Regions from separate parts of the Homo sapiens genome. Here all the other regions are linked to region 3. Evidence: fine-mapped expression QTL. A gene starts in region 3. Each other region holds a variant in brackets. All regions are shown on one strand. Distances are from middle to middle. Region 1 holds the start of SPX (spexin hormone). Region 2 overlaps RECQL (RecQ like helicase). Region 3 holds the start of GOLT1B (golgi transport 1B).

Evidence for each region. PIP is the estimated chance that this variant, and not a neighbour inherited with it, causes the effect.
Region 1: its variant is fine-mapped to the expression of GOLT1B in lymphoblastoid cells (GTEx, PIP above 0.99). The same link has a PIP of 0.9 or more in B cells, T cells, monocytes and whole blood.
Region 2: its variant is fine-mapped to the expression of GOLT1B in lymphoblastoid cells (GEUVADIS, PIP 0.95).

What each region holds. Positions count from the first base shown.
Region 1 is chr12:21,526,215-21,529,062 of GRCh38, reverse strand. It overlaps SPX (spexin hormone), which reads right to left and starts at 2,767. Exons shown (of 6, transcript NM_030572.4): 1 at 2,585-2,767; 2 at 2,097-2,177; 3 at 1,871-1,928; 4 at 1,274-1,336; 5 at 1-62. The coding sequence starts at 2,590. The variant G/A (reference allele first, on the strand shown) is at 1,519.
Region 2 is chr12:21,478,152-21,480,651 of GRCh38, reverse strand. All of the region lies in intron 6 of RECQL (RecQ like helicase), which reads left to right. Among named protein-coding and RNA genes, the nearest start is that of RECQL, 22 kb to the left of the region's middle. The variant AT/T (reference allele first, on the strand shown) is at 1,301.
Region 3 is chr12:21,500,507-21,503,354 of GRCh38, reverse strand. It overlaps GOLT1B (golgi transport 1B), which reads right to left and starts at 1,566. Exons shown (of 5, transcript NM_016072.5): 1 at 1,407-1,566. The coding sequence starts at 1,431. It overlaps RECQL (RecQ like helicase), which reads left to right and starts at 1,720. Exons shown (of 15, transcript NM_002907.4): 1 at 1,720-2,185. RefSeq lists enhancers at 218-267, 501-1,208, 1,209-1,916, 1,867-1,926, 2,067-2,256 and 2 more.

The DNA.
Region 1 (2,848 bases), 26 kb before region 3:
CGCCAGTAAGATGGTTGCTGCCTCCGGAATAGTTAGTAGTTGGGGATTTGGGCTTCGTCTTTCTGCAGAAACAAAAATGTATACAGATTCTCTTAGCATTTATATATTGATGTAGATAAGTCCTATTCTAACATGCAGCAATACTAGAAAAACCTCTATGAAATAGATTTTGACCCCTCAACAAAGGACTACTTACACAGAAGACTAATTTTTTAACATGTCACAATTGCCTTGGAAATGACTTACAATTGGTTATGTCAAGTTTACAAACAGGGTATGGAAGAGAATGTTAAACTATATGCCAAAGAGAATTTTAGATAATAATTTAACCTTTGCGGCCAAATATAAGGTAATTATTTGACTGAAGGAGTATCTGCTAAGAACTCAAAGTTATTTCAAATCTAAGTTGAAAAAAGACAAATTGTTCTGATTCAGCACAAAACATGATTTCTAATTTGGGGCAACTGAAGTTGAGAAACAAATCTTAACCTCATAAAATAAATAAGCTCAATTACACAGCATGTTTGAAGAGCCTAAACAAAAATTTAAGCACCTACTATGTGTTCAACAGTGTTTGGTATTTTTCCAAGTAAGTATACTTTTTAATTTTAGCATTTCAATCTTTACAATTTCATCAAATTGTATTGTTATTTGTTAATACAATACGATGGAAAGGTTTATCATGAAAAAGAACAGTCCCCGGTCCCATCCTTAACTGCCCGCATGTTACTCTTTTGATTTTGAACCTTTGATAGTTCTTTCTAGTCAAACAAAAGCATACATTTGAAGTTCCTAGGTAAGTTCTTATTTTAATAATAACAGCGTTTAAGAGGAGGCTGAGTAAAGTTCCTGCACAAACGCGCAGATACATTTCTAGAAGCATTTGCATAGTTCTTCCTATCTCGCCTTACCCCTCTGAGCTGCACCTCAGGTCCTAACTCCCTGGGGACCTCTGCACACCCTGGCAGCCAGAGGGCTGGCTGAACAGCCGCAAGCCAATAAGGCTTGGGGAGCCGCAGCGCCAGCCTGGGCCGCCCTTGCCACCATTGGCGCGGGGCTGGACGCGCGAGCTCCCAGCTCCGGCGCTCGGCATCCAGCTGCTGCTGCTGCCAACCCGGGCTGCCCTCGGGCGGACTGTATCTGAGGGCGCCTCAGAGCCGCGTCTTTCCGGTGAGGAGACGCTTTCTTTCGGCACCAGCGCGGAGCAAGCCCTGCCCGCCCCATCCTATTCCAAAAGCGCAGGACTAGCGCCCTTGCACCCTTGGTCACTCACCCGGCAGTGGCCGGTCGGAGAGGTCCTTTCTCCGGCTCTGGTCGGAGATGAAGCGGCGACCCTCTGCAAAAACGAGACCTGGGGCTCAGCGACAGCCTGGCCCGGGACAACCCGGGCTTAAACCTCAGCTCCTCCCGGCACAGCGCAGTCCCCGGGCGTGGGGAGGGGGCAGGTTGCTCCAGGATAGGGTCGCGCGGGGCTGCCGAGTTTCCAGCGCTCCCAGCGCAACCCCGGGCTGAGCCAGG[G/A]GCCCTGGAGCTCTGGAGGAAAGCCCCGCGCCTGACCGGACGCCGCAAGGGCGCTTTGGAGCGGAGGTCGGGTTACTGAGATATTTCCCAGGCAACCCGAGTCCCCATTTGGACCAAGAGAAGCAACCCTCCAGTTTTGGATGGAGAATTTCTAATAAGGATGGAGGATTTCCAATAATCAGGGACTCTTCCCCTCTCCCACCCCTCCCTCACCTACCGGTCTCTTTGATGGCCTCGATGATTTAAGGGAATAAACTCGACATTATTCTCTCTCCATAACTCTCCATCTATCTGTTCCTGACTCCTAGGGGTCTTCCATTATTGTAGGAAGAGCGAAATATTTGGAACTTACGTGCCCCTTTCAGGTAGAGCATAGCTTGAGGAGTCCAGTTCCTTCTCTCCAACAGTCTCTATAGCCCGGGGGAAGGGAAGAGCAGTTAATAAAACATTGCAGCTCAGTCCTCTATTACAGCAAAATAAAGGAAAAAGAAGAGAATAAAACAAGAAGGAAGAAAGAAAGAGCAGAGTGGACACACAGTGCGCATTGTTTTAAAATTTTTTATTTTGCATTTGATTACCTGCGGAGCGCAGCTGGAGTTTCCCAGGAAAACAAACACCAGGAAAAGAGCCAAGGTTGTTGCTGCCAGACTTCTGAGTCCCTATATGAAGCGATCAACCAGAAAGGGTCATTTCTGTGCCAATAGGATCTTCTGCTTCCTTCCTTGACGCCTGGACAATTATAAACCCCCTTACTTCTCGCAATATTCTGTTTTAATACTCAGTTTTCTGGAGGTGTTTCCCTTCTACCTTCTAGTTAATTCACAAAGAGTCCACTTGAAAAAACGTATTTAGAAACATATTATTTGTATTACTTCACCCAAATGAAGAATAAGTAAATACGTGAATTTTTTTCTTAGTAAAATCAAATGATTCTGTTATTCTAAAGGCGTATCGTTCAAATATCCTTTAAACTCTAAAATCCTTATTAAACATGAAATAGGTAAAATGCTATAAAACGTTTTAAAAAATAGCTAAGAAGTCTCAAGTTAATAAAGCCTTTACTTACCTTCATGTTCTGCGTCTTTTCAGAACCCTGAAATAACTATAACTTTATCTGTGAGTTTTCGACTCTTGCTCTGAAATTGGAGCTTTTAAAATCTTGGTGTTAAGGGCACCTCCCCATCTGGAGTAGAGTTTGGGAGTCCACAGGGACATCTTGTCAGTCTTCAAGCAAGATTGAGAATCTGATGACTCCTCCAGGGAGCTTCATTGCAGGAAGTAGAGGAATGATTGATGGGCAGAAATTATTTGTTTAAATACTGATTGCATC
Region 2 (2,500 bases), 23 kb after region 3:
TTAGGGAGGAAGCAGCCATGGTGTCTTCCATCCAGGGCCAGCAGGCAAAGCTGATGCGTAGTGTGCAGAGTCCTTGGTGCAGCATCCCAAAGCACAGTATAGAAGGGTGGGGTTAGAGATGACAAAAAAAAAATGGATGACACACCGTCCTTGATTTACCCTCCCTTTGCAGATCCAGTCCACCACTAAGTGTTGTCAGCTCTGCCTCTAGAATGAATCTCAAGTTTGTCTACTCTCTGTGCACCTACGTCTTACATACAGTTGAGCTCCCTTCCACTGGTCTACTGCAGCAGCTTCCTAAGTAGTCTTTGATTCCGTTCTTACACTTTTTGTTCATTCTCCACAGAGCAACCAGTGATATTTTCTAAATACACATCAAATCATGTTACTTCCCTACCTAAACTACCCAGTAGCTACTGTGTACTTAGAATAAAACCCAGCGTTCTTAACTGGGGCCCATAGGGTAATATGTGATCTGCCCCCATCTGTCTACCTGATTTCCTACTCTTCCTCTCTTCTTAAGCCCCAGCATACTGGGCTTATCATTATGAGCACTTACCACTCTCTAATGGCATATTTATTGGTTTACTCTTTGTATTGTCTTGTTTCTTTGCTTGAATTATAGACACATTTGCATAGCATTTTTGTCTTGTTCATCACTTTATCTTCAGTGCCTAGGGAAATGCTTGGCACACAATTAAAAAGGTGTTCAACATTTATCTATTGATGAATGGGTAAATCCAGCACTGTCTCCCTCTTCCCTGCCACCTCCATATCCCAGTAGTCACTAGGACCTGTAGGTTCATGTATGTCTCTTTACTCTTTTTGATTTATCCTGAATGTCATGTCTCATTTTATATTCTGTATTATTTGTTTTCTGGTCTGTTACTGCCATCTTTTAACTGGTTTTCCTTCAGTGTTTTGTCTATTCCAGTCTGTATTTTGCACTGTCACCAAAAGATGATTTATGAAGCATAGGTCTTTAAAAATTACATGATGGGCTCGGTGCGGTGGCTCACGCCTGTAATCCCAGCACTTTGGGAGGCCGAGGCGGGCGGATCACCTGAGGTCAGGAATTCAAGACCAGCCTGGCCAACGTGGTGAAACCCCGTCTCTACTAAAAATATAAAAATTAGCCAGGTGTGGCGGTGTATGCCTGTAATCCCAGCTACTCGAAAGGCTAAGGCGGGAGAATGGCGTGAACCCGGGAGGTGGAGCTTGCAGTGAGCCAAGATCGTGTCACTGCACTCCAACCTGGGTGACAGAGTGAGACTCCATCTCAAAAAAAAAAAAAAAAAAA[AT/T]TACATGATGATTCCTCATTTCCTGTAGGATAAAGTCTCAGCTTAGAATCAACTGGTTGAATTGTTCATAGCTTTTCTTAAACCTGCCTTGTACATAACAGTGTCAGTCAGGGTTCAGGCAGAGAAGCAGAGTCACGATGAATGTTATGGGATAACGGTTTTACTGTAGGAAGTAGATCTTGAACAATTGTGGGAGGAACTGGGGAAGTGCAGGTCTGAAGAGGGGAGTTGGAGGATTAGAGAAAAGTAATGGATTGATACCTAAGCACTGGTGCAGGAGGACGAGGCGGAGCTTGTAGGGAAATCTGCAGCTGGCATGTACAGTGGCAAAGGGGACCCCTAAAGGGAAGCTCGTGGAAAGGTCTCTGGTAAGCTACTTCCTGTGAGTAGCTATCGCCTCTGTGGGTCTGCTGTTGATTGGCAGGACCTGCAGTTGGGAGGAACAGCTGAATGAGGAATGGAAAAGAACTAGGATGACCTAGAACTGGCTGAGCACTTCTGCATCTGTCCATCATCCTCTCTGCGTGTAAAGACCTTGAAGGAGTGATGTTAGCTGGTTCACTTCTGCCACCAAATCTTGCACAAGTCCCTCTTTTGGGTCAGCTCTAACTTGGAACAGGAAAGAGATTCTGGGAGATGTAATTCACAGCTTAATGGATTGGACAGTAAATCCATCCACCACAAGACTCTGTGACTTAGCCCCAGTGAACTGCTTGCTGTTATCTGAACATACTAATTTCATGTCAGTGTATTTGCAGTGTATATGCTGTTTCCTCTGCGTGATGTTCGTCTCTTCCTAGTGAACTTCTGCTCATTCTCTTAAGACACAACTCAAGTATTATCTCCTTGAAATCTTCACTTCCCAAGCAGCTGCTCTGTCCTCTTTGTTTTCATAGTAGTCCTCTACTTAGCATGTAAGCAATTTCTACCACATTTTTTTCAGTTTCCTCCAAATAGTTTAAGTGACAATTTATCTAGTGATGTAGATGCTTATAACAAGTTTGAGCCTAGAATGGTTTCCGAGAAATAGGTTATATACAAAGCAGTGCCGCCCTTACCAAGATTTTTTTGGTCTGATGACACTAGGTGGTAGCAGGGGTTTGTCTGATGGCCTGTTTTATCTTTTGTTAGTTGTAATAAATTAAAACACTGTGGCTATACCCACTGTCTCTTGAGTCCACCGTGACCAAGAGTAATGT
Region 3 (2,848 bases):
ACTTTTTCTTTGACCATGCACTCAATTTCTTTTGTGCCTCATTTAACTTATGAAAGGGGCATGCTTCTGTGAGCCTTACAGGGCTCTTATAAGAATTATGCATAATGATTCACATGAAAGCACATGGTTAACTGAAAGAAAATACCTTTATATAATTGCCAGTAATTATTATTACACTAGATTCCTATCCCCTCAAGACTACACTTTTATTTTCTTTGATCAGAACAGGCCAGGCCAATGGACCAAAGTGGGCGGCAACCTTGGGGCAGGTGGCCCCAAGAGGCAGCCCCAGTCCAGCCTCAGGAGGGAAGACAGCCTGATTGGGGGGTGGCAGTGTGTGTAGGAGGCCTTAGAAGCTCTGTGAAGTTGGTCTGCCATGACTTGAATCTCCACAAGAAGACTCCACTTTAAAATAGGGCATTTTAAATAAACTTCTATTTTTCACTTCAATTCACTGTTTAAGTCTTAAAATATTGAAAATCTGAGTTAACTGGAGTGAAATGAAAGGCGTGGCAGATAAAGCAAAGTGAGACAAAAAGAGACTCTTATGAACATCAAAATATGAGGTACAGAGCTTGGGCAGACATAAATACAAAAATTATTAATATTAACAAAAAGCAGTAGGAAAGTGGAAATATTATAATGAAAGAAAAGGAAACCGATATCAATGCTAGCTTTAGAGATGAAATAGGCCTGGAGAACTCTGTGGCAGGCAGAGAGCGATGCTAAAATAATAAAACAAGCCACAAAGCACAATATACAATACTAACGAAATATATCCTTTAATGGCACACAAAGTGGCTTTTCTCTACTGCTTGAAACTTTAGCAGGTAGAAAAGTGAGAATGTTTCAAGAGACTTCTAAAAGGTTGCTTACAGTACTGGCAAAAAGCGAATATTCAAAATGCCACATTTAAGCGTAAGGACATTTTCAAAAAGAGCCTACTGTAGGTGACATTTAAAATACCGCCTCCCAAATAACCAGCCAGCCAGGGACTTGTAGAGGACCCGAAGTGTGTCATGCGCATAAACGATCCCGAGAGTGGGCCGCGGGCACCACGCAAACTTTCTCTTGTGGCAAGCCCCTAGAACAAAGCGCCCATCTCACTGGGGATGAGGAGATCAGCGCGACCCTGGAATGAGACAGACTCTGGGCTAAAGCTCCCCTCCCAACATAGGGCGTCCCACCCTGCCCCACAGACTCTTCTCCCAGGTCAGGTCCGCCAGTCCAAGTCTAGCCCCGGCATCCCGAAGGCAGCCCCTTAGGGTCCCAGCAGCCCTAGCTCTGTCTCGCAGGCCACCGCCCCCAACCCAGAGCTTCATTCATTGACCCCGGCGGAGGGGCGAGACCCAGCCGGGCGATGGGTGTGCGCGGCTCGAGGCGGGGGCCCCGGAGCAGGTGCTTACTCTGCGTGTCCGTTAAGGAGATCATGGCTGCAGTGGTGGGGACAGCGGCGACAGCACCTCGGAAAGCCCAGGGTGGGAAGCTGAGTCGGGAGAAATGAAGCCGGGAAACAGCCCAGGCGAGAGCCGCCACGTCTTCCGGAAACACGCAGCCACCCTCACTGCCGCTTTAAGAGCGCTTCCTATTGGCGAAACCTGCTTCCAATCTCAACCAATAACTCGTAATGTTGTTCGGTGACGCGCATGGTGACCACACCCCTTGACCAATTAGAGAAGGGAGTTATCTGTGATTGGCTGAACGGACCGACCCGGAAGGGTGGATGCTCTCAGCTGGCTGGCGGGAAGATTTTACTCCCGAGTAGCGGAAAGATCTGCTCGAGGCCTGGGTGCTTTGGTGTCGGAGATCCGAGAGTCGGAGATCGGAGAGTCGGACACAGGACAGTCGGACACCGGACAGTCAAACACCGGAGAGTTAGACCGGGCTTCTCGGTGGGGAGAGGCTCTGGGATAACTACTGTTACAGCTTTGAAGGGTCAAGGGTGTGCGCTTTTTGTTTCATCCTTCCCTTTCCTGCTGCAGGGCGAGGCCGGTCTGTAGCGGATCACTTCCTTTCGCCCACACATTGGCGGAGGAGAAACCGGAAAGTTAATCACTGCCCTGCTCTGAGAACTCGGGCCTTTAGGGGCACGTTCGCCTGCTGACCGGTCTTCTGATCTCCCCATTCTTTTCCATGCAGGAGGATTGGCCACCAAAGCCTGTTTATTAGCAGCTGCCATTTGTTGGTAAATACTACTGGGGATGCTTCTTCCACCCCCTGCTTCACAGTAGCGGAAGGGCGGGCGTTATTAATATTAAATTACTATTGCCTCTAAATGCAGGTGGCGGGGAGAGAGAGGATTTAGCCTATGGTATCTCAGTGGCGTTTCCTCCAACATTGATGACTGGCTGTCACCCTGTAACATTCTTCCTGTGGATGCCTAGCTTATACTGCTGAGTGACAGACCTGCTGTAGTTCAATTTCTGGATACATTTTATGTTGAGATATCTTTTGCTGTTAAATCACATCATTTTGGGAAGGAGCAGTCTTTTAACCGCATAATCAAAGGAGTCATTTAAAATCGTGGGGGAGAATTGGATATAGACTGTGTCTTTTCATAAGGGTAGAAACAGCCCCTGCTACCTTAGCAAACCTGAGCCCTCACTACATCAAGGCATTTTCCTGGGCTGTGCGGATACAAAGGTGAAGAGATTGAACCCCAGCCCTGCTAAAGGACCTTACAGTCTATGGAAGGAATGTTACATTTTCATTACGTGAAGAGATGTTTGTATAGATCAAGAATTAGAAATCCTTGGTTTACTCTCCTATTTAGCCTTCTTTTAATGGTGTGGTTATTCCACATTCTTTAGCAAGGCAAAAAAGAGTCAGCCTATCTTTCCGGCCTAGT